Regions from separate parts of the Homo sapiens genome. Here all the other regions are linked to region 3. The links come from fine-mapping of genetic effects on gene expression. A gene starts in region 3. Each other region holds a variant in brackets. All regions are shown on one strand. Distances are from middle to middle.

Region 1 (8,000 bases), 110 kb before region 3:
TGCCTTCTGGCTCAGGGAGGAAGCGGCTGCTTTCAGCTGCCTTCGCCTTGCCTCCTGAGGCGGCTTTGGAACCCTCCTGAGGTTTGTGGCCCTGAAGTTCCTTCCTGAGACCCCGCAGGGGACTAAGCCCTCGGCCCAGGGGCACCGGGGAGGGCAGAACCTCAAGACAGGGGCCCGGGACACAGGACAGAGTGTGTGGGGCAGGTGTGCAGGCTGTGCCCAAGGGGCCTCGGGGTTGAAGGGGCTCTTGGAGATGATGTCGACATCGCGGTTCCTGAGCGGGTGCCCAGATCTGGATGAGCTGTTTTCTGGAGAAAGCAGGAAAGTGACGTCATTTTGTGGCTTCAGATTGACCGCAGCCTGGCAGAGAGGGAGTGGTGGCAGGAAGTGAAGCTGCTGGCTTCCCAGTCACGGCCTCCATGATCCACGTGTGGCAGCAAGAATCACAGCTGCATCATGACACCCAGAGGGAAAGCAGCTCAAGCTGCAGTTTAAGGCGACTCCACGGAGGGCCCTGGCTTAGTTGTTGCACAGCATGGGGTCAGATGGATGCCCTGGAAGAGTCAGCAGAGACCCCCTGGCCTTTGGAGTTTGTCTCTGAGCGAGAGACACTGTTGGGATGACCGGCGAGTGGCGTTGGGTCCACATGGGGGCCCTGGTCCGGCTGAGTCTACTGAGCACAGGCCTGCCCCTTGCCACCCAGCTCTGCCCATATGTGGCCGTCATTCCTGGGCTTCACCTGGGAAACGTCCTTTGAGGCAGCTCAGCTTTTCCACAGTGGGTCACGTTGTTTGCTGCTGGAGACTGGCTGAGTCTGTGCTTCCAGTATAGGAAGGTTTAGGAGGCGGTCAGCAGGCCTCTCCTGTGGCCACTGTGCCCGAGGCAGGTGCCTGGGGTGAGAGGGATTCTTCCGGATGTGGCCGTGCACTGCCCAGCAGGCCTGGAGTGAACGTCTGTGTGGAGTCCGGGCTCCCATCCAGCATCCCTTAAGGGTCCTGATGGCTGGAGCTGGGGGAGGCAGGTATGGCAAGGGGCTTCCTGCACGCAGGAAAACTGGAGACCCCTGGTGAAAGAGCCAGGTGTGCACCTGCAGAGCCAGGCATGGGTCCACAGAGCCTGTCAAGCCTGGTTTACACCACAGAGCTGGGTATGCGCTGAGAACCAGGTGTGCACGGAGAGCCAGGTGTACACTGCAGAGCCGCGTGTGCACTGAGAGCAGGTGTGCGCTGAGAACCAGGTGTGCAGAGAGAGCCAGGTGTGCACGGAGAATCAGGTCTGCAGAGAGAGCCAGGTGTGCACTGAGAACCAGGTGTGCACGGAGAATCAGGTCTGCAGAGAGAGCCAGGTGTGCACTGAGAACCAAGTGTGCAGAGTCAGGTGTGCGCTGCAGAGCCGGGTGTGCACTGAGAACCAGGTGTGCAGAGAGAGTCAGGTGTGCGCTGCAGAGCCGGGTGTGCACTGAGAACCAGGTGTGCAGAGAGAGTCAGGTGTGCGCTGCAGAGCCGGGTGTGCACTGAGTCAGGTGTGCAGAGAGTCAGGTGTACACTGCAGAGCCGCGTGTGCACTGAGAGCAGGTGTGCATGGAGAGCCAGGTGTCTGTTGAGAACCAGGTGTGTGCAGAGAGCCAGGTGTGCACTGCATATCTAAGTGCTCATGTGGAGTCTTGGGCTGGGCAGGTGCTGCCCAGGACCCTGGCTCTCTGGCTGTCTTCTGTGCATTTGGGGATGGGAGAAGGGGCTCGGCTCTGGCTGGAGGGCAGCCAGGCAGACTTGCCAGCCAGCACCGCCAGGTGATAAGAGCTGGTGCCCACAGGTACTCAGCAAATGTCTGCATTTTGGGGAGGGCTGGAGAAAATGAAGGCCATGCCCTCTCTGCAAGGCTCCGCACAGGCCCTGTTTCCCAGTCCTTCAGCCACAGGGTGTCCCGGCAACAAGGGTGCCAGGTCGCCTGCACCCTGACTGTCTCCTGCGGAAAGGACAGCGCCTGCTCCTTGTCCTCCAGTAGCTGCTGGACTCCGGGGTCTGGGTGCTCTGGCGCCCGGCGGCTGGGTCCCCACTACAAGGTAGACACCAGCCTTGAATCCAACTGTCGAGGAAATGGGGTGGGCGGCGGAGGCTGGGGAGATCGGGAGGAAGGGAGGTATGGGCTTGAGAGACAGGAACCCACCCTCTGCAAGTGCAGTGGCCTGTCCCCTCCAGAACGCTCTCATTCTTCGTGCTGAAGGGAGCTGGGGGCGTGGCAGGCCTGCGAGACGAATGGGCGCTATCAGCTCAGGGCTCTGCCTCGGAGGAGCCACCCGGAGGCAGCACCCATGGGTGTGGGGGCTTGGCCACAGGGGACGTCAGGCCTCCTCGGTGCAGCACCAGATGCGTCTAACAGCCTCCGCCCCGTGGGCGCCCACTCAGACTTGCTGCTCAGGTGCCTAGAGCAGAAGCCACCTCCTCAGAGGCCAGCGCGCCAGCCTGGCACCACGGGGACGCTCCCAGGGGGTGCCCAGAGGGAACGTGCGCATCGGGCGGGGTACTGCGGCGCGTGTGGGCCGTGAGCCCCGCCCTGTAGTCGGACACTGGAGTCCCGGATCCTACAGATCTGAAAGGCTGAGTCGGATGCAGCAAAGGCGAAGCGGGGTTCGCAGCCCCAGACTCTTGGGCGGGGGGGTCAGCGAGCAACCGGGAGGGGCGCCGCGGGCCATTCGCCGCTTCTCCTGGGCCGAGGGCGCAGGCCCCTGCCGCGGGGGCCCCTCGGACTCCACGACTTCGCGGACGCGCGCCCACCGCCATAGCTGAGGTCCCGGGCCAGGCGGCGCGTGGGTGGCTGAGCGGGAGCGCGTCCAGCCAGGCGTGGAGGCCGCGCGGGGCCGGGGTCGAGCCCAGCATGGCGGGGGGGGTGCGGGGCAGTGGCCCGGACAAGGGCATGGGGCCGGAAGAGGCGGGGCCGTTGCCAGGAGACGAGACGGAATGGGCGGGGCGCGGGCGGGGGCCGTTGCCGGGAGACGAGACGGAATGGGCGGGGCGCGGGCGGGGCCGTTGCCGGGAGACGAGACGGAATGGGCGGGGCGCGGGCGGGGCCGTTGCCGGGAGACGGGGCGGGGGCGGGGCCGGGCCATTGCCCGGAGACGGGGCGGGGCAGGGGTAGCGCGGGCTCCTCCGTGCATCGCGGCGAAGTCTTCTTGGGCGTGGGTTCCTGGATCGGATCGTCTGCCCGCGGGAGGGGCGGGACTGCTTAGTTACGCTGGGGAGGGCCTGAGAAATCCAGGGAGAAAAGAAGGTGGCTTGACCTCATCTATTCGCAGTCTGCATTTTACCAAGCGCCGACCCTTGTATCTCGTGAACTGAAGCCCTCCATCCTTCCCCGCTGATCTAACAAGAATCTACAGAACTCGGTCAATAATTTATTAGTAAAATATACATTTCTCATTATTAAAGAATAAAAGCTTTCAGCCCTGCTGAACACACATCTGAGGTCTCAAGAAAACCAGACAAGATAGCTGACTCTCCCACATAGCCCTTTCCATAAAGGCGATTCCTAAGCTTAAACACACACAAAGCTGGGGCTGTCCCTCTTGAATCCCATGGGAAACAGGCCCCAAG[A/C]TCAGGGGACCTGGAGTCGGGAGCTTGGGGTGCAGTCTGCTCACTGACACCCTCTCGAAGAGCACGCAGGGGAACCTGGTCCTGGGATGGAGTCTTTCTGGGGATGCCCCACGTCTGTGCTGCCTGGAACCGGGTGCCCAGGGCAGCCGGCTCAGCAGGCCCCAGAGCAGGGGCAGGTGTGGCTGGGAGGGGCTGTATATGTGGCCTCCTGAACACAGCGGGAGACCAGCGGCCACCTGGAGACACGTACACACACACGCACCCGCAAGCACACAGCTCATCCCAGCCTGGTGCCTGCAGACAGCTGGGGCTACACGTGGCCAAGGCGGGGAGAAGGAATTGGCTGAGGGCGTGGACAGCAGGAGCCTCTCAGGTAGATGCATTCCTGAGGTTAGAACAGCAGCTGAGCCTGCAAAGTCAGGGTCTAGGGCTGAGCGGCACTAGCTGGACCGTGGAATGCTGGAACGCATGGCTTCTCTGCCGCAACTTCTCCAAATTTCCACACAGGCGCAGGTGCCCCCCTAGGGTGCTGTGGGAGCTCCGGCTCCTTGCTTCCTCTGGATGGGGGGCTTCAGGGCAACCTTTGGGCCAACAGCACCCTGGGAGGAGGAAAAGATAATTGATGTTGAAAAACTACCTGCTATAAAAGGTATATAAAGGGTACAACGAAATTTTACGTCCTTTAACATCTCTTAAAATGTGGATTCTTGGTTCATCCACCAACAACATGGCCCATGCACACAATGGCAGGTGTGGCAGTCACAATATATACAGCTCACAGAGGACAGACTTTCTTCCCTGCAGTTGCTGGGGGAAGGTCAGGCACCACTGACAGCCGGGGTCGGCATCTGCTGAGAAGTCCCCTGATCACAGCACAGATACCACAGTACAGCCACTGCCAATGCCTTTCCCTTTTCTTTCAGTCACCCAAGTTTATCCACAGATAATCAGAAAAAAACCCCACCCTCCAGGGCAGTGCCACCGTCAGCCCCGTGGGGAGGCCGTGCCGTCCATTGCACAGTGGACTCTGCCTGGTGTGTGCTGGGGCCTCACCTCAGCTGGACCAGGGTTGGCCGCACCAGCCCCGGGTTTGACTGGGGGCACTGGGGGTGCGAACGTTGGCTTGATGACCTGGGAGGAAACAGACACAGCTGACATGGGTCCCCCAGGCACTCCCGGCTCTAGCCTGGACATCACCTTCTCTGGACCTGGAACGAAGCTCCCCACAGACCTCGCTCTGCCCCCCAGGGAGCCTGCAGGCTCCGCCCCCACTGAGCTCGCTACAGAAAAGCCCTCCTGGCTGCCACTGCCCAGGAATAAAGCCCATCAGTGGCAGAACGCCATCCTGGGCCCACCTGCCCAGTACACCATCCACATCCCCTAACCAACCCCCATATTACCCTCCAAGAGCTTTTTTCCTTTCCTTTTTTTTTTTTTTTTTTTTTGAGTCAGGGTCTCCCTCTGTCACCCAGACTGGAGTGCAGTGGCGTGATGTTGGCTCACTGCAGCTTCCTCTTCCTGGGTTCAAGCGATCCTCCCGCCTCAGCCTCCTGAGTAGCTGGGACGACAGGCACAAGCCACCATACCCAGCTAATTTTTTATTTTTTGTAGAGACGGGGTCTCCCTATGTTGCCCAGGCTGGTCTTGAACTCCTGGGCTCAAGTGATCCTCCCGCCCCAGCCTCCCAAAGTGCTGGGATTACAGGCATGAGCCAATGCGCCTGGCCTGAAGAGCTCTACAGATTGCCGGAATGTGGGGTTTTGGAAGCTCAAAGGCCAATAATTAGCTACTAAAACACGTGTTTCTTTGCATTTCAGCTTTCCCAGGGTAGGGAGGCTGGATGTCCACCACACAGAGCTGTGGAGCTCACTCCTGGCTGTGTCACACGGAGCCTGGGTGGGCTAAGCATTTGCAGTTTTCAGCAGCTTCCAAAGGACCCTACTGAGCAGCCAGGGGAAGCCCGTGAGAGTGAAGAGTGAGTGACTTCCCTCCTGCACAGTTCTGCTGCAGCCTCTGCCCCATCTACTGCCACGCCTGTTCCTGCTGCAGCCTCAGCCCCATCTACTGCCACGCCTGTTCCTGCTGCAGCCTCTGCCCCATCTACCTCCACGCCCGGCTCTTGCTGCAGCCTCTGCCGCATCTACCTCCATGCCTGGTTCCTGCTGCAGCCTCTGCCCCACCTACCTCCACGCCCGGCTCCTGCTGCAGCCTCTGCCCCATCTACCTCCACGCCTGTTCCTGCTGCAGCCTCTGCCCCATCTACCTCCATGCCCAGCTCCTGCTGCAGCCTCTGCCCCATCTACCTCCACGCGCAGCTCCTGCTGCAGCCTCTGCCCCATCTACCTCCACGCCTGTTCCTGCTGCAGCCTCTGCCCCATCTACCTCCACGCCCGGCTCCTGCTGCAGCCTCTGCCCCATCTACCTCCACGCCCAGCTCCTGCTGCAGCCTCTGCCCCATCTACCTCCACGCCTGTTCCTGCTGCAGCCTCTGCCCCATCTACCTCCATGCCCAGCTCCTGCTGCAGCCTCTGCCCCATCTACCTCCACGCCCAGCTCCTGCTGCAGCCTCTGCCCCATCTACCTCCACGCCCAGCTCCTGCTGCAGCCTCTGCCCCATCTACCGCCACGCCCGGCTCCTGCTGCAGCCTCTGCCCCATCTACCACCACGCCCGGCTCCTGCTGCAGCCTCTGCCCCATATACTGCTATGCCTGGTAACCATAACTTCCTTGGCCAGAAATCTCTCTGCCCCCTTCAGGCCCCCATTTTGCCTGTCCAGACCCCTTCTAGGACTATTTCTGCAACTCACGTACAAGTCTGAAGTTAGTTCAAATAAAAAGTTAAAAAGGAAAGAGAGAAATAGAAAATCACTATTAGGGCCGGGCATGGTGGCTCACGTCTGTAATCCCAGCACTTTGGGAGGCCAAGGCAGGCAGATTACGAGGTCAAGAGATCAAGACCATCTTGGCTAACACAGTGAAACCCCGTCTCTACTGAAAAAAAAAATACAAAAATTTAGCCAGGCATGGTCGCGGGCACCTGTAGTCTCAGATACATTGGGAGGCTGAGGCAGGAGAATGGCATGAACCTGAGAGGCGGAGATTGCAGTGAGCTGAGATCGCGCCACTGCACTCCAGCCTGGGCGACAGAACGAGACTCCATCTCAAAAAAAAAAAAGAGAGAAAATCACTATTAGGCAAACAGCACAGAACAACTATTGCAGCCAATATTCACCAATGGATGCCAAAACTAGTGGGTCCAAGCTTAAGGTTCAAAGAGTCTCAAGGTATCTCCCTGAGGCATCTGCTCACTATAAAAAGAAGACAGGAGCTTTCTAAGGAAAAATCTGTGGACGCTGCTCCAACTAGGCGCTGTGTCAACATCCCCCGTGACCGAAGCTGCATGTGGGCCAGGCCTGGGCTGTGCCTGGGGAAGGGTGTGTCCAGTGCTGCCCCCGCCAACAGTGCAGGGCCCTCATCCACACAAGGAAAGACGGGACAAACCCAGGCTGAGGGACTCTGAAAACACTGCTGGCCACACTTCCAAAGGGCAAGCTGAGGAAAGGCAGAGGGGCCGGGGGCTGAGTGCCTGGGGGGACCATGGCTGGAGAAGGGCGTCCAGAGGGAGCAGGCGGTACTGACTGGGTCGCATTGGTGACGTGGAGCCTCGGCTGCGCGCCCACACTGTGGCCATTCGGGAGCAGGCCAGGCGAAGGGCATGCAGGATTCTCTAGGCTATTTTTGCAACTTTTCTGTAAGTCTAAAATTTGTTCAAAATTAAATGTTAACAAAAAAAAAGCCTCAACCCAGAGGGCAGGGGCTCTCCTGCCCCAGGTCTTCCATGCACAGCCCAGTCCTAGGGCTGACCACGAACCTCTGTGGAGGGGGTCCCCGGAGATGCACCGTGGGACCTCTTCACACAGGCACCTCCCCAGCCCCAGCCTGCCCGCCACCGTCCTGCCCTCTCTGAGGACAGAGGCTGCTCACAATGTCCCGCAATGCCAAGTGGACCTCGATGGTACCACTGGGGCCCCGTGCCAGGCCCCAGAGAGAAAGCCTGGCCCTTTCTGCTGCCCTAGCTGAGTCAGTGGCCCCAGGAAGGGAGCTCAAGGGTCCTTCTCCACCCACTGCCAGAGCGGTTTCCCAGGGCTGAGGCCAATGAGCTGCCCCCACGGGGTCCAAAAAGGGCTCCAAGGTTAGCCCAGAGGTGGGAGCCAGGGCGCAGGGACAGGACCCCAACCCTGGGGGGACACGGAGGCCTGGGAGTTAACCCTCAGCATGCCAGGGCTCCAGTGATTCGGGTTTTGAGAGATCTTTCCAAAACCCCCAAAGCCCCCAAACCCAAGGGAAGCGCGGAACGTGTCCCTGCCCTGAGCCCACCCACCCATCTGTCCTGCAGGGCCCCAGGGAGTC
Region 2 (8,000 bases), 23 kb before region 3:
TCTTTGTTGCCCAGGCTGGACTGCAGTGGCGCAATCTCGGCTCACTGCAACCTCCGCCTCCCAGGTTCAAGCAATTCTCCTGCCTCAGCCTCCTGAGTAGCTGGAATGACAGGAGCCCACCACCACGCCCACTTAATTTTTTTTATTTTTAGTAGAGACGGAGTTTCACTATGTTGGCCAGGCTGGTCTCAATCCCCTGACTTCAGGCAATCCACCTGCCTCAGCCTCCCAAAGTGCTGGGATTACAGGTGTGAGCCACCGCGCCCGGTCAACAAGCATGTTTTTAAAGGCAAATTTCTTCCTCAGTCGTGTGGCAGGCCCTGAGCAGGCAGCTGGGTGTCCCCGCTCAGATCCAGGCCCGAGTGGGCTGGGCGGCTGCAGAGCCAGTCACCTGAGCTACCCAGGGTGGGATCCCTGGCCCCGACCTCTGTCCTGACACGCCCCAAGCGGCAGCAACAAAGCCCCAATTGGCCTGGGCCTGGGCAGGAGGAGCTGGGCCGGGTGCCAGATACTGGGATCAGCCACTGCAGCTCCCTGAGCACTCTCTACAGAGACGCGGACCCCAGACATGAGGAGGTAATGCCACCATCCCTGAGCCCCAATCCCCACCCCACCCAAACCTGGAGGCCTGGCCCTTAGCCAGAGGGGGCCCAGCTGTGCTGCGCTCCAGGGGGCCTGGTTCAGGGGAGTGTGCGGGTGGGAGGGAGAAGGAGGGGCCCTCTGAGGGTCTGGGGTCTGCCACCAGGCTCTACCTCCTCTGTGGCCCCGAGTGCACTTGCCTCTTGGTTCCCCTGGCCTGGTGGAGAATCACCCAGGGACCCCCACCCGGAACAAGGAAAGGGGAGGTGCCAGGCTGAAACCAGCAGGCCTGTGACTGCCCAAAAGGAAGGGGGCTGGGGGAGGGGAGGGGCTGGGGCGCAGGAGCCAGGGGCTGCCCTGAGGTGGTGTCACCCTGGGAGCTGTGATCTGGAGCTCAGGGAAGCACCCGGGCTCCCGCTGGACCCTGGAATCAGAGGCTGCCTTCCTTCTGTGGGGGTGTCTGTCTTCCCCCTCCTTGTGTGGGGGACCCCTCTCCCCGCTCCTGTGGAGGTGCCCTCCTCCTCTTCCCCCTCCTCTAAGCCAGGGCCCTCCCTGCCCCTCCTCTCCTGGTGTTTCTCCCTTGTAGAGAGGTGGCTTCTGGGTAGCTTGGGGACCCTTTGGTGCCCAGAGCCGTTTGCCTGGAGAGGGGACCCACGGGGATCCCACAGCCAGGCTGCTTGGCAGTCACCACCGACCACCTTTCTAGGGGCTACCGTGACCCGAATCCCAGGCCCCCAGGCTGTGTGTCATGGGAGGTGGGCACCAGGGGTGGCCCAGGCAGCACGGCAGTGGGATTGGGGTCCAGTGCCCAGACAAGAGCCCCTGCCCAGCATCAGAACCAGCTGGGGGTCCTGAGGAGAAGCAGGGCCCCCGAACCAGACCAGACCAGGTCCCGGCCCCGGGCTGTCCGGGGCATCCCCCCTGCCCTTTGACCTCTCACCATGGCTGAGTCACCCAGAGAACGGGCAAAGGTCCCTGTGGAGCTGCAATCCAGGCCTGCAGGGTGTCCCAGACACTGATTCTTCTGCCTCAGCAGGAGTAGCTGCGATTACAGGTGTGTGCCACCACCCCCAGCTAAGTTTTGTTTTTTTTTTTTTGAGACAGAGTGTCTCGCTCTGTCGCCCAGGCTGGAGGGACTGCAGTGGCGCCATCTTGGCTCATTGAAACCTCCACCTCCCAGGTTCAAGTGATTCTCCTGCCTCAGCCTCCCAAGTAGCTGGGATTACAGGCACCTGCCACCACGCCTGGCTAATTTTTTTTTTTTTTTTTTTGTATTTTTAGTAGAGACAAGTTTTCACCATATTGGCCAGGCTGGTTTCGAATGCCTAACCTCAAGTGATCTGTTGCCTCAGCCTCCCAAAGTGCTGGGATTACAGGCGTGAGTCACCGTGCCCAGGCAGTTTCATATTTTTAGTAGAGACGGAGTTTTGCCATGTTGGCCAGGCTGGTCTCAAACTCCTGACCTCAGGTGATCTGCCCACCTCAGCCTCCCAAAGTGCTGGGATTATGGGTGTGAACCACTGCGCCTGCCCCAGACACCCTTGACTGCAGCCCTGCTGAGCCCTGTACAGACCCAGAGCCCCGCCCCACCCCAAGACCACCCCACCCTGACAGACGCAAGCCTCCCCCGCAGGGCCCTGAAGAGACAAGTCTGCACCACATCACACACGCACGCACACACAGACACACTCCCAAACCCTCACACTCTACACACCACACACGCATGCACACAGCACACACCCACCCCCAAACCCTTACGCTCCACCCCACACACAACATACATACACATCCAACACATACATGCACACACAGCACACACACACACCCAAGCCCACACACTCCACACCACACACAACATACACACACATCCACCACACACAAACACACATAACATACACACACAGCACACGCACCCCCGAACTCACACACTCCGCACCACACACAACATACACATGCACCACACACTGAAGCACACAGTGCACACACACCCGAACACGACACCACCCACAGCATACATGCACACCCACCATGCACATGGTCCACACCCACAAAACACACATGCACAGACAACATATGCACACCCCCCACCACATACACAAACACACACATCCCGTGTCCGAACTGACCTGACACCCTGCCTGCCTGCCTAATAGTGCTGCCATTCACCCCTGAGCCCCCCAGCCGTGGCCCCGCAGCTCTGGGACACAGCAGGTGCCCTGCCTGCAGCAGCGTGCAGCCTCAGGGCTCTGTGGGCGTGGGGCTGTGGGCCCTCGCTGCTCCATACCCACCCATACCCACACCCATGTGCAAGTGTGTTCATGTGTGTCCCCACGTGGAGGGCGGCACAGAGGCATGGCAGAACCTCTGGAGTTTCCAAGCCAACCACCAGTGCCTGCCACAGTGGGGTCTGCCCAGACTGTGAGGAGCAGAGTCTGGGGCTGGGGCTGTGGGCTCTGGCCTGAGGGGGGCTGGAGGCAGGTGGGCCTGGGGCTTCTCCCTGTTCTGTGCCTGCGTGTCTTGGCCCATGTGAGCACAGTCCAGTAAAACTACCTGCGCTCCCAAGGAGGAACCCAGCCCAGGCCTCCCAGCTGCCCATCAGGGTGCTGCCTGGAGTTCAGGGCGTCCCCTTCCCCTACCTCACACTTCCCTCTCTGGCCCCCCCTCAGGCTCCTCCTGGTCACCAGCCTGGTGGTTGTGCTGCTGTGGGAGGCAGGTGCAGTCCCAGCACCCAAGGTAGGTGTGAGCCCCTCCCATCTGGGCAGCAACTCCAGTTGTCACCTTCTGCCCCTACAGCAGGGGATGTGGACAAAGGGCCCCTCTTCTGGCTTCAAACCCCAAGCTGGCTTAGGGGAGAGAGGCATGGGTACGCTCATGACTCTTGATGCCTGTGCAGGCATGAGGAGGGGGCAGGCTTCCCTTCCCTGGGGTCAGATGGACAGGCCTCAAGACACCCAGGTGGTCCTAGGTGGATGATGTGGGTCCAGATGAGCCCACATGACCCCAGGTGGACGAGGTGGGTCCAGATGAGCCCCCGTGACCCCAGGTGGAGGAGGTGGGCCCGGATGACACCCACGTGGTCCCAAGTGGAACAGGTGATCCCAGATGAACCCATGTGACCCAGGTGGAGGAGGGCCCGGATGACACCCCTTGATACTCACCTGGGCCTTGAAGGCCAGAGGTGACTCCATGTGCTAGTGGCTCAGCTGCACTGTCTGTGCTGACAGTGGTGTCCTCAGCCGGGACTATGCCTGGGGACGGGCCCTGTTCCCTGGCCCATGTCAAGGCCACACAGTCTTGCACACCTGGGATGGATCGGGAGGAAGGAGGCCCACGCCTTCCTTGACTGGAGACGCAGGAGCATGGGCACAGCCCCCCCACGGTGCTGGTCCTCCCCTGGAGCCACTGGTCCTCCCCTGGGGTCACCTGCTTTGCTCTCCTGTCTGTCCTTTGCCCCACTGAGGATGGCTGGGCTCAGAGCAGCTGACAACTAAGGTTGGCTGGGCTCAGAGCAGCTGACAACTAAGGTTAGCTGGGCTCAGAGCGGCTGACCGCGTTCTCTCGGCACCAGCCAGGAAGGGGTGGTGCAGACACAGACCCAACCAGTCACTGCAGAAAACAGCCAGTGCATTGACGGCCAGGGTTGGGAGTGCTAGGTCAGGGATAC[G/T]GTGCCAGGTTACATCCCAGTCCTGTGCTGCCCCAGACCCGGCCAGAATTCCAGGCCAGCTGGTCATCTGGGCACAGGCCGGCAACCTCAATCCCGGCTTGCAATCCCAACACCCGAGAGTGGCTTGCCCACTAGAGACGCTCGAGCTGTGCTGAGCTGGCCCTGCCCCCACCCCCTGCAGCCACCTCCACCCCATGCAGCCCCAGGTGGGCCTCGGAGCAACCTCTCCCCAGGTGTCCTCCACCCGCGTGGACTGTGGCCCAGCCCACACCTGTGACTCTCCCCCAGGTCCCTATCAAGATGCAAGTCAAACACTGGCCCTCAGAGCAGGACCCAGAGAAGTAAGTCCCCCCAACCCCACCTCCCCACCACCCATTCCCTGAAGCTACAGCCCGTTCTGCTGGGCCCTTCCTGAACCTGGAGAGCACGGGGCAGATGCAGAGAGGAGCCCTGTCCAGCAGCTTTTGGAAGGAGGGGGCACTCCAGCCTCATGGGCATCTGTCAACAGCGCCCCATGCAGGGAGAAGAGAGCACAGCCGGAGGGCTTGGGGCTCCACGGTGTCTCCCTACTCAGCTTCCCCACAGCCTCCAGGGCAGCTTGTGCTCCACGGCTGGTGGCTGTAGCTGGGGCGGCTCAGTCTTGGATCCTGAGGTTCCCCACATCCTTGCCCTTGGGACACTGCTCAACCAAGGCTCTGACCACTGCTCCCCACGCAGCCACCCAGGGACGTGGTGTGGAAGCCTGGCCGGGAGCACTGGGGGCCACTCATCACTGGCTCTTGAGAGAGAGGCTTGTCCTGGGGCTGCTGGTGGTGGGGCTGGAGTGGCTGCCCTGGGATGGTGGGCACCCTCCTGCGGGGGGTTCTGTCCACCTCCCCCACCTGCATGTGGACCTGACCAAACTGTGCCAGCAGGGCCTGGGGCGCCCGTGTGGTGGAGCCTCCGGAGAAGGACGACCAGCTGGTGGTGCTGTTCCCTGTCCAGAAGCCGAAACTCTTGACCACCGAGGAGAAGCCACGAGGTCAGGGCAGGGGCCCCATCCTTCCAGGTGGGCACAAGGTCACAGCAGCAGAGTCCGCTCGTGGGGTTGACTTGGACAGACCAAGGGTCTCGGGAAAGAAACTGAGACTATACCTTCATGTGCTTGTCCCTAGGCACCAAGGCCTGGATGGAGACCGAGGACACCCTGGGCCATGTCCTGAGTCCCGAGCCCGACCATGACAGCCTGTACCACCCTCCGCCTGAGGAGGACCAGGGCGAGGAGAGGCCCCGGTTGTGGGTGATGCCAAATCACCAGGTGCTCCTGGGACCGGAGGAAGACCAAGACCACATCTACCACCCCCAGTAGGGCTCCAGGGGCCATCACTGCCCCCGCCCTGTCCCAAGGCCCAGGCTGTTGGGACTGGGACCCTCCCTACCCTGCCCCAGCTAGACAAATAAACCCCAGCAGGCCGGGCGCGGTGGCTCACCTCTGTAATCCCAGCACTTTTAGAGGCCGAGGCAGGCGGATCACCTGAAATCAGGAGTTCCAGACCAGCCTGGGCAACATGGTGAAACCCCGTCTCTACTAAAAATACAAAAATTAGCCGGGTATGGTGCCGGGTGCCTGTAATCCCAGCTACTTGAGAGGCTGAGGCAGGAGAATCGCTTGAATCTGGGAGGCGGAGGTTGCATTGAGCTGAGATCGTGCCATTGCACTCCAGGCTGGGCGACAGAGCAAGACTCCATCTCAATCGATCAATCAATCAATCAATCAACCCCTGCAAACAGGTGGGAGGCCACATGCCCCAGAAGACCGATGACCGGGGCCCAGCCTGCCCTGCCTAGGAGAATCAAGGGCTGCACAAGGCCCAGGTGACCCTTGGCTCCCAGAAGGTTGCACTACCCCCAGGCCCTCCTCCTTGTATACCGGGATGGTGAGGGGTGTGGCAGCAGTTAGGGGATGGGACCAGAGGGCACCCTGGGACCAGTCTCAGCTGAGAAACAGAACCCACCCTGGGCTCCCTACAGCAGGAGCCTGAGACAGGGTCGGGGAGGAGGGTGGCCGAGTGCCTGGGGCTCAGGGCCCAGCTGAACGGACGTGCATGTGCTCAGGTGGAAAGTGCACAGGTCTCAGGTGAGGGCGGGTAGACCCAGGCCCAGGACATGGCCTTTCTGCCCTCCTGACGTTCTGTGCAGCTCCCACTCTGGGTGCCCATCCTGTCCTCCTGGCCCAGCAGGCCCAATGCTGCAGCGCAGGTCCAGGCTGCTGGAGTCACTCACACACCGCATGTGTCCTGGGCACATGCAAATGTGGGCGGGGTTCCTGCGTGGCAGTCTCATCCCTATGGTGAGAGAGAAGCACCTGGTGCCAAGCCCGGGGCTGAGCCACACACATTTGCCAGCTCCAGCAGCTAAGACAGAACGGAGCAAGGGAGAGAGGCCACCCGTCCCTCATCCTGCCGTGTTCAGCCCTCGTGTGGCCACTCAGGGGGCTGAGGGTTTGCCCAGGTGTGGAAGAGCTCCTTGCACCGCCAGCAAATCCCCGCTCTCCCAGGACACCAACGGCTGAGAGTAACTGCCCAAGGGTGCCCCACGGTGTCCCACAATGTAAGAGCTGTTACCCTGGCTTATGGATGAGCTGGAGAGGCCAGTGACCTTTGAGGTTCTGTCCTAAAAGGGCCAGAGATGGGCTGCCAGCTTCTCCCTTGGCAGCCTCCCCTGTCATCCTGATAAGAACATGGGGTAGGAGGGCATTGAGGGATCAACACGCTCAGGGCTGAGATTTGGGCAACTCCTTCCCCACTCCCTGAGCCCCAGGCAGGTAGAAGACCCTGGATCTCTGAGTTGCAGGAGGGTCTTGCCCTAGGCAGCCCAAGCTGGTGTTTGTGGCTTTTTTTTTTTTTTTAAAGCTATCTTGATTTTATTTTGTTTTGCCCATTACTTTGTTTTTTCTCGTGATTTTACTTAGTTTGCTCATATATGGCTTCATTTATATAACATGCTAGAGAGGGCACACTAACCCCAGAGGCTCATCTGTGGGGCTGAGCCTGGGGATGGGCGAGGGTGTGTGCAACCAGCTCGTACACCGCTGATGTTAGGCCACGACGCGGCCATCGGGTCTAGAGATGAGCAGTGATTGGCCAGGCAAGTGCGAGGCCCCTGGGGCCAAGGCTGACCACTAGTGAGCACAGAGAAAGCCTTGGCTACCATCTGGGAGCAGCAGGCGGACAGGACCCCAAAGTCTGCAGCCAAGCCCAGACAGGGTCCCTTCCCCAGATTTGGAGCCACATCTCAGCCGGGGTGGGCTTGCCTGCACCCCCAAGGTTCTCCTGCGGTCTGGAGTGGGGGTCTGGAACCCTGGGACTTGCCCCCTCGAGCCCCGGGGACACCAGCCCCAGGCCCTGGGGGAAGCCCCTGTCATCCCCACTCCTGCCCTTGGTCCCTCAAACTCCAGCCCTGCCCCATCTTCTTCCTGTACCTGTCACTGCAGCAAGTTCTGGGGAGCAAGACGAGGGTCCGGACAGTGGCTGGTGGTTATTCTTCCCCATCCTTGGGGACCAGTCCAAGCATCCCATGGGCAAGCCTCCCAGGCACCCCCTTTCAGGAACCCCCTGCATCCCACCTCTGCCTGGCACTGGACTCCAAATGACCTCGTGTCCTTTACCTCCCCTGCCTGCCAGGGCAAGTGAGGCTTTCAGCGGGAGGCCACCTATGCCACAGGCATAGGGCATGGCCCACACCGAGGCCTCTCCAGCCGACAGTTCCTCCCGAAGCG
Region 3 (8,000 bases):
AGTGTCATGAAATGATCACAATCCGCAGACCCCTGGTTTACACGGCAGGGAGCGTCATGAAATGATCACAATCCGCAGACCCCTGGCTTACACGGCAGGGAGCGTCATGAAATGATCACAATCCGCAGACCCCTGGCTTACACGGCAGGGAGCGTCATGAAATGATCACATTGCCTTCCCTATAGGCCAAGATCAGTCTCAGCACTTCAAATAGTCCCAGGACACAGAGCTTTCAAGGGGAGCAAAAGAAGCTAGTTTATAGATGTAGCCAAAGCCAACACCTCTCTTCCCCCACCCTGGAAGAGAGGCTTGCTGGGGAGAAGCTGTCAGGTGAACAGCCACGAAAAAAGCAGATGCCAGGAGGTGTCCTCTCCACACAGTTCCTGGCTCTTTAGCACCATGAGGCAGGAAAGGAGGCTGCTGGCCTGGGAACTAAAGGCCTCTTCAAAATAAAAATCTGTTATGCTGTGTATGCACAGCACGGTTCCTTCAACCACGAGAGGAGGAGACTCTTGGCAGCAACACTCACGGCATAGCCATTGACAGCAGCGATGACTGGCTTCTTGACCTGGGTGAGGTGGTCCCAGTGCTTCAAGAACTTGCTGGAGTAACAGTCCTGGAAACTCAGGTTCTGCATTTCCTTGATATCAGCTCCAGCTAGCAGGAGTGGAAAGGAGGTTCCAGTTACCAGAGAGCAGAGAGCCCACCCATCCTATATCTCTCAGACCAACAAGGAACTTCAGAGCACACCAGACACAGGCAGTGGGGTTGCTGGGCACGGCTGACACCAGGCCACGTGGACAGCTGTAGGGACGCTGTAATGCCAGCTAGAACAGAAGTCACGCAGAGGGGCCCTGAGGCAGGCAGCAGGTGCAAGGGAGGCGCCCACAGAGGCTAGGCATATTTGTCAGGGCATAAGCCCTTGACACACACAAAGCCTGACTGCCAAGGACCTAAACCCCTTTGAAGAAGCTGTTTTGCTGGTGGAGCACATGCAGCTCTCTGGCATACACAAAGCTGCTCATGCAAGCCGTTCCCATGACCGTCTTCACTCGATATTTGAGGAAGTCCCCAGTCGCATGCCTCTGCCATCACAGAGGCGCAAATCTGTCTGGAGGCTTCTCCCAAGGCCATACGTGCCTCCCACATCTGCCCAGACACAAAGGCCTCTGCTGCCGCGCGTACCTGCAAAGGCCTTATCCCCGCCGGTGAGGACAATGGCCCCCACGGCCGGGTCCTCCTCGAAGGTCTTCAGGGCCTGGTTGAGCTCGTCAATCAGGCCATCGCAAAGTGCATTGAGGGCCTTGGGGCGGTTCAGTTGGATCAACCCCACGGTGTTATTCTTCCCTCTTTTTTCTGCGATGATGTACTCAAAGTTAGCACCTGGAGCAAGAAGGCAAAAAGGGGTATCTATTCACACAGGTATCAAACTGGGGAGAGTGGGGGAAGGGATGTGGCCCCATCGGTGGATACAGTGTGACCCCAAGAGGCCCTCTGAGGGCTCCCTGCCGAGTCCTCAGTGGCTCCAGGTGTAGCTCTCAGCCACAAGGATAGATGGTAGCCTTGGTACCATTCTCTCTGCTTTCACATGTGTTTGAACATGTCCTAAAGAAAATCCCCGGGCCGGGCGCGGTGGCTCACGCCTGTAATCCCAGCAATTTGGGAGGCCGAAGCGGTCGAATCACAAGGTCAGGAGATCGAGACCATCCTGGCTAACACGGTGAAACGCCGTCTCTACCTAAAATACAAAAAATTAGTCGGGTGTTGTGGCGGGCGCCTGTAGTCCCAGCTACTGGGGAGGCTGAGGCAGGAGAGTGGCATGAACCCAGGAGGTGGAGCTTGCAGTGAGCTGAGATCATGCCACTGCACTCCAGCCTGGGTGACAGAGTGAGACTCCGTCTCAAAAAAAAAGAAAAGAAAAAAAGAAAAATCCCCAGCACAGAACACAGCCCACAGCCGCTTTCCTTCTCCTAATATGCCTTGGTCAGCTCTTCCCAGGACACCACTCTGGAGACAGCCCTGGACTCTGCTGAGACAAGGCACCAGGAAACACCTTCTTTCAACAAATGCCAACAGGTGAGGGGGTGTAAGGCAGCTCCTTGCACTTGGTACCGCCCCAGTGCCAAGACCTCTGGCCAACTGGACGCAGGGTGGGGGATGTGAAAATCCTGGGTGTTCCTGCAGCATTAAGATCAGGCACAGGTCCGGAGCAGCAGGCCAGCCCGAAAATGGGAGACGCAGGCGCTTCTCGGTTGGCCTGCTGCACAGGACCTGCGCCTGCTGGGTGGACAGCAAGGTGGGAAGGAGACAAAGGACAATGGCGTTCCAGGGGTGAGAAGGTGAACCTGAAAAGACAAAGGTAGCCTGTGTGTTGGATGCTTGCCTCCGTTAGTGGCAGAGCAGGGATCATAGTCCCTGTGCTATGGGTTTCTTTTTTTTGGAGACCGAGTCTCACTCTATTGCCCAGGCTGGAGTGCAGTGGCGCAATCTTGGCTCACTGCGACCTCTGCCTACAGGGTTCAGGTGATTCTCCTGCCTCAGCCTCCCGAGTAGCTGGGACTACGGTCACACACCACCACACCTGGCTAATTTTTGTATTTTTAGTAGACATGGGGTTTCACCATGTTGGCCAAGGTGGTCTTGATGACCTCAGGTGATCCACCTGCCTCAGCCTCCCAAAGTGCTGGGATTATAGGCATTAGCCACTGTGCCCCGCCGTATCCTGTGGGTTTCTAGGGGTAACTGGAAGATCACAGGTGAAGTGTCTGGCAGCAGTGCCCGCCATGCAAGATCCAGGAAAGGGCTGCTGTCAGGGTGGAGAAGCCGAAGGCCAAGGAGAGCATGGAGATGAAACCAACACAACTCAGTGGTCCACTGCTACACAGGGTGAGGGAGGAAGAGGAAGCAAGAGTTCTTCCCCAGCCCAAGGCATGGCCCAAGATTCCTCAGATACTAGAGCCGGTGATGGCCGCTCATGAGTGGGGCCCCGGGTGAGCCACGAGGGAGGAAGAGGGCAGCCCCCTGTGGCTGGGGAGGAGGTGTCAGCTTTTCCCTTAGGACCCTCTGAGGGGTGGCCCTGGTCAGGAGGCACCCAGGACAAAATGCACCTGCATCTCCTGTTCTCGGGCTGGCCGGCTGCACAGGAGCTACGCCTGCTCTTAGAGCCGAGGGAACACCCCGGATTTTTACAACCCCCACCCTGCGCCCAGTTGGCCAGAGGTCTTGGCACTGGGGCAGTACCAGCCAGCCGCCGGGCCTCCCGCAGGACGTGGCCTGGTGAGAGTGGCCTCCTGCAGAGCCAGGCAGGGGGTGGGGGTGCGGGCCAGGGTCAGGTGGGTGGTGTCGGTGCGGGGTGGCGGGTGGTGGGGGGGTGTTAAGCCTGGGTCAGGCTGTGGGTGCGGGTCAGGTGGGGGGTGCAGCACTAGGCGAGGGGGGTGTTGCAGGCCTGAGCCAGGCAGGGGCTGCGGGTCGGGGTCAGGTGGTAGGTGCGGGGTCAGGCAGGAGAGTGCGGAGTCAGGCCCTGGGGATGCGGGATCGGACGGAAGAGGGGTGCGGGGTCAGGCCGGGGGGTGCGGGGTCAGGTGGGGGGGTGCGGGGTCAGGCGGAGTGGGGTGCGGGTAGGGGTCAGGCCGGAGGGTGCGGGGTCAGGTGGGGGGGTGCGGGGTCAGGCGGGGGGGTGCGGGGTCAGGCGGAGTGGGGTGCGGGTAGGGGTCAGGTGAGGGTGCGGGGTCAGGCGGAAGAGGGGTGTGGGTTGGGGTCAGGTGGGGGATGCGGGGTCAGGTGGGAGGGGGGTGCGGTCTGGGATCTGGTCTGGGCGTGCAGGTCGGAGTCAGGAGGAGATTCGGGCCGCCAGCTCTCACCGCGCACTCACCCGAGGCGAAGGGACGCCAGGCGGGACAGCGAACCGGGGGCCTCAGCGGGCCGCGGACGCAGGACAGCAGGACACGCAGGGCGGCCATGGCTCTCTGGACTCCTCGCCCGGCCCCGCGGAGCCGCCCCCTCGCCTATAGCCTTTCAGGGCTCGCTCCGCCCACAGGCCAGCGCCGCGAGACCAGGCGGCCCTCGCGAGATCAGCCCGGGCAGAGTGAGCGGGTCGCTCTCCGCCAGGCCCCGCCCCCAGGCCCGAGCTGCCGCTCGCGGATCTAAGGCCGAGGGGCGTCCCCGGGACCCCGCCCTGGGCTGGGACCAGCGCCCTCCAGGCCCCGCCGCAGTCGCCCGCGCCCCCGCCCCCGCCCCAGCCCTCGGGGTCCCAGCTGGCCCCGGGGAGACCGCGCGGAGGCGGAGGCAACGGCGGCGCCTGCCGGGCTCTGCGCCGCCTCCCCCCGCCCGCCTGCCCGCCTGCCCGCCTGCCCGCCTGCCCGCCTGCCCGCCTGCCCGCCTGCCCGCCGGCGTCTGTAGCAGCGGACACAGCGCGCCCAGGCGCAGGGCCAGGCACGGTGGCAGCGGCGTGGGCACTGAACGCCACATTAGGAGGAGTTTTATTTTCATGCACACAAGACTTCAACAGATTTAAATAATAAAAATTTCATTCATTTAAGTTATTTTATTTATACCTTTTAAATATCTAGACAAGTATTGTGGAGCATCCATTTGTGTACTTGCCCGGATTCTGCAAACGCCAGGGTGGAGATAAAACCACCCTGGATAAAATGGAATGGAAAGCGAAACTGCTATTGTGACCGGTGGAGGGTGTCCAGGTTCTTGACGTCTTGAACAAAGAACTGGACAAAACGCACAAACAAAGCACGGAAAGAAGGAAGCAACAAAAGCGAGATTTATGGAAAACAAAAGTGTGGCCGGGCGCGGTGGCTCAGGCCTGTAATCCCAGCACTTTGGGAGGCCAAGGCGGGCAGATCACCTGACGTCAGGAGTTTGAGACCAGCCTGGGCAACATGGTGAAACCCCCCTCTCTACTAAAAACACAAAAATTAGCCGGGCGTGGTGGTGCACGCCTGTGGTCTTAGCTACTCGGGAGGCTGACGCAGGAGAATTGCTTGAATCCGGGAGGCGGAGGTTGCAGTGAGCCGAGATCGCACCACTGCCCTCCAGCCTGGGCGATAGAGCCAGACTTCGTCTCAAAAAAGAAACAAGAAAAGACAACGAAAATAACTCCACACTGTGGGAGCGGCTGAGCATAGCGGCTCAAGAGCCCCGTTACAGATTTTTTGGGGGGGTTAAATACCCTCTAGAGGTTTCCATTGGTTACTTGGTGTACGCCCTGTGTAAATGGAGAGGACACTTCTTGTCATAGCGGAAGTGTTTCCATTTGATTTAGTTCTAGGGAGTCAGCATGAATTGGCCTCCAGACCCTGTTCTCCTGCCTCACTATGTTCAAGAAAATAATTCAATTCAAACCAAAAATGAACATGCACCAAAATTTTATTTCAAGACCGAGGGTAAAAATGAAGACATCTCGTGTAAGTAGAAACAAATCAACAACAAACCTCAACAAACCTTTAGTAAACGATGCTCTATACTAGTGTAGTTAAACCTCTGGGACAGACAGGCCCAAAATGAAATGGCTCAGACAGAAAAGAGGTTTATTTCCTTCCTTCCTTCTCCTTCACCTTCTCTTCTTTCCTTTCTTTCTTGTCTCGCTGTCACCCAGGCTGGAGTGCAGTGGTGTCATCCCGGCTCATCATAGCTTGCGCCTCCCGGGTTCAAGCGATTCTCCTGCCTCAGCCTCCTGAGTAGCTGGAACTACGGGTGCTTACCACCATGCCCGGCTAATATTTGTAGTTTTTTAGTAGAGTCGGGAGTTTTGCCATGTTGGCCAGGCTGTTCTCGAACTCCTGACCTCAAGTGATCCACCGGTCTCGGCCTCGCAAAGTGCTGGAATTACAGGAGTGGACCACCGTGTCCGCCAAGAGGTTTCCTTTCTAACGACCCAGGAGGCCGGGCAGCTCCCGTCCTCCATCAAGTAATGTAGCCACAAAAGCACAAGCAACAAAGGGAGAACATATGTAAATTGGATTTCACCAAAATTTAAAACTTTTATGTCTGAAAGGACACTACCAAGATAGTGAGAGGACTGAACAGACATTCCTCCAATGAAGATAATCAGTGTCAGATAAGCTCAGCATCACGAATCATTAGGGAAATGCAAACTGACCCCTCAGTGATACGACGTCACACCTACTGTGCTGGCTGCAATAAAAAGCCCAACAGTCACAGCGGGTTGTGGGGGACGTGAGCGGGGAACGCTGGTACACTGCCAGCGGGAATGGAAAATGGTGCAGTCACTTTGGAAAACAGTCTGTTGTTTCCTCAAAAGGTCAAACAGCAACTCCACTCTTAGGTGTACACCTCAGAGAAATGAAGACAAATGTCCACAAAAACTTAGACATGAACGTTCATAGCAACATTATTCATAATAGCCAAAAAGAGGGAAAAAGCCAATTGTCCATCAACTCATGAATGGATAAACAAAATGTCATATATCCAAACAATGGATACATTAGAATGTATTAGACTATACAATGGACTCTATTCAGGAGTAAAAAAGAAAGAAGCGCTGATACACATTACAAAATGGACAAGCCTTGGAAATGTTATGCTCAGTAAAAAAAGCCAGACACAAAGGCCGTGCATTGAATAGGTTCCATTTCTATGAAATGTACAGAACAGGCAAATCCACAGAGACAGAAACTAGATTAGCGGTCACCAGGGGCTGGAGGGAGGGGTAATGGGGGGGACTGCTGAGGGGCATCCCCATTTGCTTTTTAGGGTGATGAAAATGTCCTAAACTTGGGGCCAGGCGCAGTGGTTCACGCCTGTAATCCCAGCACTTTGGGAGGCCAAGGCAGGTGGATCACCTGAGGTCAGGTGTTCGAGACCAGCCTGGTCCAACATGGTGAAACTCCGTCTCTACTAAAAATACAAAAATTAGCCGGGCGTAGTGGCACATGCCTATAATCCCAGCTACTCAGGAGGCTGAGGCAGGAGAATTGCTTGAACTTGGAAGGCAGAGGTTGCAGTGAGCCAAGGTAGTGTCACTGCACTCCAGCCTGGGCAACAGAGCAAGACTCCATCTCAAAAAAACAAAACAAAACAAAAAAGTTCTAAACTGGATGATGGTGACAGTGGCACAACTCTGTAACTAAACTGAACACCATTGAATTGAACACTTTAAACGGGAGAAGTCTTACAGCATGATGTCTATATCAATAAAGCTATTTTAAAAAATGAACAAGCCTGATTCAGTCAAAGCCACATGGGTAGTTGCCACCTTGATCACCATAGGTGGCATCACCCAAGGCCCTCTGGAGCTAGGAGAAGCACATACCTTGTACCAGTCAGATGGAAAAGAGGTTGTGTCCGTGTGTTCCAGCTGGTGGCTCTGGCATGGCAGGATTGTCCAGGACTGGCCGTGGTCACGTGCACTCTCCATTTCAGAGCAAGGGGGACGAGCGACTAACCCAGCCCCAGGTCAGCGCGTCAGCGGCCCGTGCTATTGGATTCAGGCTGTGGCACCACATCCAGGGGACAAAGAGCGCGTCGGTTGTCCCCACCCTGCAGCTCTTGGGTCCATGTCTTCTCTCTCCGCGCCATAAAGCCAGAGTTCCCATTTCAGTCACTACAATCACCCCTCCTTGCACCAGGCCTTCCAGGTGTGGGGCATGGGCATGTTTACCTCTGGCCTGTGTGGACCGCTGTGGGGAGGCTTGGCCAGCAAGTTGCTGAGCCAAGTATCTTTTATGGGATCCTGCCGCTCCACAGGAGGATCCGGGAGGCTGAACTAGAGTTAAGTTAGAATCTTTCGGTTCCCCTTCGGGCTGGGCTCCCCGCAGGAACCAGGAACGGGCTGGCCAGGAGGACATGATGGACCGGGAGAAGGTGACAGAGGCAAAGCCAGACCCTTCCTGTTCCATCTTGCAGAGGCTGTCCCAACGCGAGGTGAGGCCAGGTGCCTGGGGGACATCGATGCCTGACCAGAGCCCAGCCTGGACAGCCTTCCAGCAAAGGCTGGGCACTGGCCGACCGTAACGGCCCAGGAGAAT
Region 4 (8,000 bases), 87 kb before region 3:
GCGAGCTCCTTCCGGGCCCGCTCCTCGGCCCCTGCGGGCAGCCCCAGGACGGTGCTGTGCTCCAGCGTCTGCCCGCCCAGCTCGCCATCTAATTTCATGCTCTGTGTAAATTTCTAGGGGGGGAGAGTCGCAAGGAAATGCTTCTGTTAGTTACAACCACAATGCTTTGCAGAAAAAACAAGTCCTGCAGGCACGTCACCCTCCGCACCTCTGTTGTAGCCTGCGGCTGGGGGTACACAAGCATCTCTGAGGCTGCAGGGGAAATGACTTATCTGTGCCGACAGAATTCCCAGGTCTACCTTCCACGGTGACCAGCTGATTTTCCTGAGAACAGTTATTTTGGTGTTTCCCTATTTGGGACCCTGAAGTGGCCATGCCCTCCTCCACCTCCCCACTCGCCCTCCTCCGGACCCTCCCCATGGCACTGCCTGGAGAGCCTCATTCTCAGACCCCTGCTTCTGCCACTAGACACGCAGGTTCTGCACCATCGCCAGTCGGCAGCTGCTTGTGACTAGTGCCTGCAGGTCCTTAACGGAATCAAATAGCTCAAGTGCTGAGGAAAAGAGCATGCAAGGGCCATAAGCAAAGGCCCCGGACAGAGACCAGCACCACAGAGGCTGAGGGATGGTTCGGGAGGAACACAGCCCTGCCCACGCTGCCAGGGCAGGGGCTCCAGGAGGGAATCACCCGGCCAGGAAGACCAGGAGTTCTGGAAACACTCAGATCCCAGCGGCTCCTCCACGAACACAAGGGCAGGAAAACGTGAGCAGGCTGCGTGCGGCCACGGTCGGGACATGGTCTGCCCACCCGCGCCTGCCCACCCGATGGTGCTACCCACACCCACGCACCTGCATGCAGTTGGTGAACATGACGCACACAGACATGAGCTTGGAGAAGACCTTCAGCAGCTCGGGGTTGGTGAGCATGCAGTCCTTCAGGCAGGTGTCCAGGAAGCCTGTGTGGTGGCCAAGGACGTCGTCAATGTTGGAGGCCTGCGGGGAACAGGCCAAGCCCCTTCTCAGAAAGACGTGGCTGACAGACGGGCCCTGCATGCGCACGTGCTCAGTTCTGGCTTTGTGCATTCCTGTTTACGCACTTCTACCTCTTAAATGGGCCTTGGGCTTTTAGGGGAAAACTTCCAAACACCACTAAAAAAATGATGGGCACACCCCGAAGGGGTTTCATTTCTTAAGGCAGAAGACAGGAAGGGAGGCTGCGGCAGCTTCTGGAATTTGGTACCAACAGATTCTGCCTTCAGGCCCCTCAGCCTCAGATGCGCAATGTGGGAGAGACAACCTCGGGGCAAAGACGGCTCAGAGTCCCCCTAGGACGGCAGGCAGCAAGGGGTCCCGTGTGTGGCCAGCAGTGTGGGTGCAGCCCCGCCCTGGGGGATCCCTTCCTCTCCCCTTGCCCTGCCTCTCCTGCACTCCGTGTCTCCCTGCACTCCCTGCCTCTCCCGCATTCCCTGCCTCTCCCGCACGCCCTGCCTCTCCCGCACTCCCTGCCTCTCCTGCACTCCCTGCGTCTCCCTGCATTCCCTGCCTCTCCTGCACTCCCTGCCTCTCCCCTCGCCCTGCCTCTCCTGCACTTCCTGTCTCCCTGTGAAAGGAAAGTGGCTTTCAAACGTTATTATCTGTGGAGCTAAAACTCACGGATTTCAGGTTTTTCTCCAGGATGTGCCAGGTCGGTTCCATCACTTCAAACATCATGTAGTATTGAATATTCTGGACGAAGTTGAGCATTCGCTGCCGCAGAGTGAAAGCCCCAGCAAACCTGAGTGACACGGAGGACGGAGGACAGCCATGGAGGACGCGGCCCCGACAGCGCCCACCAAGTGACACGGAGGACGGAGGACAGCCATGGAGGACGTTCTCTGGACGTGGCTATTTCCTCTGCAGAGCAAGCGCCCCTCCCAGCACACCAGACACTCACGGCCGCTGCTCCTGCGTCTGCCCAGCACAAGCTGTCACCGTCTACCAACCTGTGCCCTGCAGGGACACCCCCAGCCAGCTGGACGGTGGAGACTGGGACGCGGGCTCCTTGGTGGACGGACCCCTCGGAGCCCACGCCAGGAAAGTGCCACACAACAGATGCATATTTGTGCTTCATCATCAAGATGAGTTCTTTTTCTTCTAATTTCTTTTTTTCTTCGAGAGACAGGGTCTTGCTGTCGCTCAGACTGCAGTGCAGTGGCACGATCTTGGCTCACTGCAGCCTTGACCTCCTGGACTCAAGCAACCCTCCCACCTCAGCCTCCTGAGTTGCTGGAACTACAGGCATTCCCGGCTAATTAAAATAATTTTCTTTTTTTTTAAGAGATGAGCTCTTGTTACATTGTCCAGGCGGGTCTCGAACTTGTGGGCTCAAACAATCCTCCCTCCTCAGCTTCCCAAAGTGCTGAGATTACAGGCATGAGCCACTGCACCCGACTGGACAAATTCTTATGAAGCTCTGCCATCGACCCCTTTTTTCAACACCCTAGAGGCACAGACCGGCTGCAAAGCACCTCTGGTCCCAGCAAGATGTGGCTGTCCGCTCTCGGGAGGAGCTAGTGTCCTGCACACCGACCTGGGCAGTCTCCATGCCCGTGCAGTCACCACAAGGCTCCAGAGAGGGCTGAGGGACAGAGCCAGCATCCCCTGTGGGGTGGACGGCAGCGCCGTGCAGCCCCAAGACAGGAAAATGAAGCAATGAAGCATTATGGATCTAAAGCCACCAACGTGCGCTTCCAGATGACACTTCCAGAAGCCTAGAAAGCTGTCTACCAGGAGGGCACAAGGGGGGCGCTGCACCACTGGGCAGAGTGCAGCGAGCGCTGCTTCAGGAGGGCATGCGGGGGCAGAGGAAGAACGCACCACTGGGCGGAGTGCAGCGAGTGCTGCTTGGCGGTTTTGTTGCTGATCCAGACGCTGCAGAGCTGCCGCTCCACGTGCTTGCAGTAGAACATGTGCCTGAAGAGCATCTGGTAGCGAGTGAGGGCTTTCCTGCAAGAGACGTGGCGGCACCTCAGGTGGGCCTCCGTGACCGGCGGCGTCGTGGACACGGCGTCTGTACTCCACAGTCCGCACCGTGGCCCCCGGACAGCCCGTGAATCTCTCGGACACTGAAGGCCGGGGAGAGCCGCCTTGGGTCCTCTGTGGGACGAGGTGGCCACCGCGTGGCACAGTTCTCGCTTCTGCCAAACCTGAGTGAAGATCTGGCAGGTGCCCGAGCAGCCGACCCGCACCTGTTGATGATGAGCGAAAGGGGCCACTTGACGATGTAGTCGAAAGAGAAGGCCTCCAGGCCGCTCAGCGCCAGCTCCGTGGGGTCGGCGTGCGCCATCGCCTTCTCCTGCTTGGTCTCGATGGCCAGGACGCGCAAGAGCTGAGTGATGAGGTCATGGGGCATCAGGTCGATCTTGGAGGGAAGGAAATGAAACAAAGCATCCAGTTTTAAGGAAAAGACCCGAAGTCGCATCCCGATCGCCATCCTCGCTCACAGACCCAGCGCTGACGTAAGGTTCCCTACATTCCGATTCTAAATATCAGAGGCTTTTCAAAAACCCAAACATCTACTGATAAATCAAATTCAAAACTGAACCACTTCCCATCAGAACAAAACAACAAAAATTCAGATGAATTACTTTGTAAATACCCACTGCTGCTGTGGGTGGTATAAGGGAAAAACCGCTAAGGACGGTGAAAGAAACGTGATTCCTTAGGACGAAAACCTTTGTACCATGATAAGCACCAGGCCCAGGTTGAAAAATGAAGCATATTTGACGAGGGACATAATAGTTATTATAAGCAAGTAATACTGTCCTCACGTTAATCACTCGAGTATTTGCTAAGTTCCAACCACCCGCAACAGAGTTCCTACAAAACCATCGCACAACGACAGGACAGGAAATGAAGGGCAGGGGATAAAGCAAGAAGAAACAAGCAGCGGACAGACGAAATCGTGACCATCACAAACGCAGAAATGAGCCCCTGACATCACTTGTCCATCAAATAGCCAAGGTGGGAGCTTTCGCAGGTGTGCAGACAGCAGCGTCCTGAGACTGGACTCCATCAACTCCAGCAAGGTCAGCCTAGTCATACAAGGGCCATGTATTGTGACCCAACAATTTCACTACCAGGAATTTTTCCTACGAAAATATTCCTGCTCCTAACAAGAGACCCCAAAATATCTGAATCAAGAATAGACAGAATGACAAGGAGAAAAGCAGTTCTTCAGTGACAGGGAGACTCGGTGCCCTACTTCTAACCACGGAGAGAACCGCC[G/A]GACAGACGATCAGTGAGGAAAGACACGGCCTCAACCCACCTGCAGAACACCACCCCAACAGCACCGAGGGCGCGTCCTCCTCCCGCGCGCACGGAACCGAGGGCACATCCTCCTCCCGCGCGCACGGAACACTCTCCAGGATGGATGTGGGGCCACTACACAAATCAATACATTTCACAAAACTGAAATCACAAAAAGTCTGTTCTCTAACAAGGAGATAAAGTTAGAAACAAGCAACAGAAGGAAAACCAGAAACTTCACAAACATGTGGAAGTTAAACATAAACCACCCACGGCTCCAACAAGAAATCAGAGGGAATCAGAAACACCTCCAGACAAACAGAAATTATGACGCTAGGGGATCAGCGAAGGCTGCACTCGGAGGGATGTTTACAGCTGTAAACTAACTTTTCAAATTAAGAAACTAGAAAAAAGAAGACCACACTGAACCCCTAAGCAGCAGACAGGAGTAACAAAGATGACAGAAGAGAGAAAACAGAAAAATACAGTCAACAAACCCAAGAGTTGGTTCTTTGAAAAGATAATGAAATCGACAAATTTCTAGCTACATCAGCTAAGACGAAAGAAGATTCAAATTACTAAAATCAGAAAAAGAAGGGATATAACTACTAATCTTACAGAAATAAAAAGCAGATACTAGAAACCCATGAACTGTGCACCAGACAAGATGCGAGACAGACAGCCGACCAAGAGGAAAGGGACTGAGCAGACCTGTGGCCAGCAAGGGGCCAAGTCCCCCTCAAAAGTCTCCAACAAAGACAAACCCAGGGCCCAAGAGCTCCCAGGCAAACCCTGCCAAACAGCCAAAGAATCAACACCCTCCTGGGGAGGCGCAGGTGAAGGATCGCTTGAGCCCAGGGGTTCAACCAGCCTGGGCAACACAGACCCCCGTCTCTATTAAAAATAGTAAAAAACAGATAAAACATATATATATTTTAAAAAACGGCTGGGCACGGTGGCTCATGCCTGTAATCCCAGCACTTTGGGAGGCCAAGGTGGGTGGATCACCTGAGGTCAAGAGTTCAAGACCAGCCTGGGAAACATGGTGAAACCCCATCTCTACTAAAAATACAAAAATTAGCTGGGCGTGGTGGCGCGCACCTGTAATCCCAGCTACTCGGGAGGCTGAGGTAGAGCATCACTTGAACCCAGGAGGTGGAGGCTGCAGTGAGCTGAGATCATGCCACTGCACTCCAGCCTGGGTGACAAGAGCAAAACTCCGTCTCAAAAAAAAAAACAAAAAACAACGACAACAAAAAGGCAAAAACAAAAAGAATTAACACCACTCCTGAAACCCTTTCAAAAGACCTGAAACCCTTTCAAAAGACAGATGGAGGGACACGTGAAAACAATTCCACAAGGCCAGCATGACCTGAAAGCCAGGCCCGGACGAGGGCACTGCAGGAAAACCCGAGACCCGCGCCCCTCCAGAGCACAGGCACAAAGACCCCCGATCCCGGCAAGCCGGCCCCGGTAGCCAAGTGAAGGAAACAGACCCTGCGGTCGCCTCACCGGGACGGGGAGTGGGGGACAGGGCTGGCCTCTGCTGTGCTCTCCTCCCAGCCCCTCCGAGGCCTCTGCCACAGGGGACAGCCCCCGGCACCCCCACCCACCTTGAGGTCGTCCTTGAAGGGGTCAGTGTTGGCCGTGCTCATGCGCAGCGCCAGCTCCAGGAGCGCTTCCAGGCGAGGGGGCGTGATGTCCTCCACCGGCTTCCGGAGCTCCTCCTCCGCGAGGTCCATGAAGTGCACGAAGAAGTCGCCCTGGTCCATGAGGAAGTAGCGCTTGATGGACCTGCGCCAGGGAGCAGGCGTGAGCAGGTGCCCACCCGCAGGTGCCCGCCACAGCCAGGGAGCAGGCGTGAGCACGTGCCCACCCGCAGGTGCCCGCCACAGCCAGGGAGCAGGCGTGAGCACGTGCCCACCCGCAGGTGCCCGCCACGGCCAGGGAGCAGGCGTGAGCACGTGCCCACCCACAGATGCTCGCCATAGCCATCACCCTAAAACACACTACAACAGGCTAAGCGCTTGGCTCTCAGGCAGGGGCTGTGCAACCACCACGCAAGCTGTGGCAGGAGGAGCTGAGAAGGGGCTGGTGGGCCCTGGGCAAGGAGGGGAGCTGGGGCCCCTGGACAAGGTGACCGGGGGCCTACACCACCCACTGTGAGTGCCAGGTCCTTGAGCTAGAGACCATCCAGCAGTGCCCACTTTCAAAAAGACAAGGCGGAGCTGCCAGAAGAAACCCAGCGATCTCAGCCCCACGTCCCACAGGTTCCGGTTTCAGAGGGAGGTGAGTGCCCGCACAGGGACAGGGCACGGAATCACCTGAGGTGAGCCACCAGCTCCTTCTCCTCCATCAGGAAGTCCAGCAGCACCTTGCTGGCGTAGTTAAACGCCTTCTCGATCTGCTCCACATACGCCCGCTCTTTTAACGTGTAGATGATCTCTTTAGCCACCGGGCAGGTGACGTCATGGCCACACTCTCTGACCACATTTAGATATTTTCCTGAAAACACAGAAATTCAAAATTTTATTCTCCACATGGTCGATCTCAGGCCCCAGCTGTCTTTGTCTACACAGGAGGCAGTGGAATGGACATTGAATGGGCTCTCCACACGGTCAGTCTGAGGCCCCAGCTGTCTTTGTCTACACAGAAGGCAGTGGAATGGAAACTGGGCTGCATGAGGCGGCTCCACACCCTTGCTCCTTCCCGGTAAATCACTGTCAGCGGCTACAGACTGAGCTGGTGGTGGCAGGGCTTTGCCGTGGCTCTGCACATCTGGAATTTTCTAACCAAGGGCACAGAAATAATTTCGAACAGGCATTATGAGAACCGGATGGCTAATCGCTTCCCAACCCTTTCGTGACGGCCCCGATGTGCCGAGTCCAAGTCCCCGCGCCACTGCCCTGGGTCCAGGTCAGGCCCTAACCTGTGTGGTCAGAGATAGGAAACACTGCCGGCCGCCAGGCGTGTGTCTTTGCTGGTTTTTCCTGACATGCTAGCGGAGTTTTAGAAATCAGAAACAGAAATAGAGAAGGCACCTGTGAGAGAGCCTCGCAGGGTCAGGGACAGAGTCCCGGAGATGGAAACCTGAGGGAACCTGGCAACAGAGACCATCTCAAGGCCTAACTCAGCGCCGCAGCCCAGCCCACGGGCCAGTCCTGACCTCAGCCCCGCATTCACGGACACCAGGGCTCAGGGCAACCACAGGGTGAGGCACAGGCTCCCGGTGGGAGGGCCTGGGCTGCAGGAGACTCTCCAGGCAGAGCTGTGCTGCGCACCCCAAGTCCCCGCCCGCTGCGCCGCACCTGTGCTGAGGATCTTGTCCGCCATTTTCTGCAGGAAGGACGGGATCTGCTGCTGGACGATGGTGTACCGCTGGTCCCAGTACTTGTCGTTGTAATCCTCCTGGATCCTCTCCTTCCGCAGCTCGTGCTCCTCGACCATAAACTCACTAAAACCACAGGGAGCGCTTCGGTCACAGGCAAAGCAAGGGCGCCTGAGGCAGGCGACACTTCTCCAGGCCGGCAGCGCGCAGGGACATTAACAGAGGCCAGCACACTTCCAAGTAACGTTCCACAAGGGCCGAGCCTAATCTACCAGTTACTTCTCAACTGTGGGCTAAAACGAACCTAGGGGCCGGGCACGGTGGCTCACGCCTGTAACCCCAACACTTCTCGGCTAAAACGAACCTAGGGGCCGGGCACAGTGGCT

Evidence for each region. PIP is the estimated chance that this variant, and not a neighbour inherited with it, causes the effect.
Region 1: its variant is the best candidate, but not a certain one, in a credible set for the expression of ECHS1 in whole blood (TOPMed, PIP 0.67).
Region 2: its variant is the best candidate, but not a certain one, in a credible set for the expression of ECHS1 in whole blood (INTERVAL, PIP 0.82).
Region 4: its variant is the best candidate, but not a certain one, in a credible set for the expression of ECHS1 in blood mononuclear cells (TOPMed, PIP 0.76).

Annotation. Positions count from the first base shown.
Region 1 is chr10:133,259,045-133,267,044 of GRCh38, forward strand. ADAM8 (ADAM metallopeptidase domain 8) reads right to left here. Exons shown (of 23, transcript NM_001109.5): 22 at 4,644-4,721; 23 at 3,379-4,189. The coding sequence ends at 4,112. Among named protein-coding and RNA genes, the nearest start is that of ADAM8, 14 kb to the right of the region's middle. RefSeq lists enhancers at 292-341, 3,280-4,256 and a silencer at 2,634-2,963. The variant A/C (reference allele first, on the strand shown) is at 3,591.
Region 2 is chr10:133,346,850-133,354,849 of GRCh38, forward strand. ZNF511-PRAP1 (ZNF511-PRAP1 readthrough) reads left to right here. Exons shown (of 9, transcript NM_001396060.1): 6 at 3,246-3,312; 7 at 4,532-4,584; 8 at 5,158-5,291; 9 at 5,398-5,834. The coding sequence ends at 5,591. It overlaps PRAP1 (proline rich acidic protein 1), which reads left to right and starts at 524. Exons shown (of 5, transcript NM_145202.5): 1 at 524-576; 2 at 3,246-3,312; 3 at 4,532-4,584; 4 at 5,158-5,291; 5 at 5,398-5,834. The coding sequence starts at 569. The coding sequence ends at 5,591. It also overlaps a transcript of FUOM not described here. RefSeq lists enhancers at 1-549, 550-1,209, 1,210-1,869. The variant G/T (reference allele first, on the strand shown) is at 4,244.
Region 3 is chr10:133,369,375-133,377,374 of GRCh38, forward strand. ECHS1 (enoyl-CoA hydratase, short chain 1) reads right to left here and starts at 3,980. Exons shown (of 8, transcript NM_004092.4): 1 at 3,872-3,980; 2 at 1,186-1,383; 3 at 530-657. The coding sequence starts at 3,959. MIR3944 (microRNA 3944) reads right to left here and starts at 2,289; the gene lies at 2,182-2,289. It overlaps LOC124902563 (a long non-coding RNA gene), which reads right to left. Exons shown (of 2, transcript XR_007062395.1): 1 at 7,286-8,000; 2 at 5,362-5,832. RefSeq lists a silencer at 3,743-4,252 and an enhancer at 4,634-4,723.
Region 4 is chr10:133,282,230-133,290,229 of GRCh38, forward strand. TUBGCP2 (tubulin gamma complex component 2) reads right to left here. Exons shown (of 18, transcript NM_006659.4): 9 at 7,595-7,740; 10 at 6,611-6,791; 11 at 5,900-6,080; 12 at 3,227-3,399; 13 at 2,856-2,984; 14 at 1,653-1,773; 15 at 849-992; 16 at 1-113. Among named protein-coding and RNA genes, the nearest start is that of ADAM8, 9.4 kb to the left of the region's middle. The variant G/A (reference allele first, on the strand shown) is at 4,266.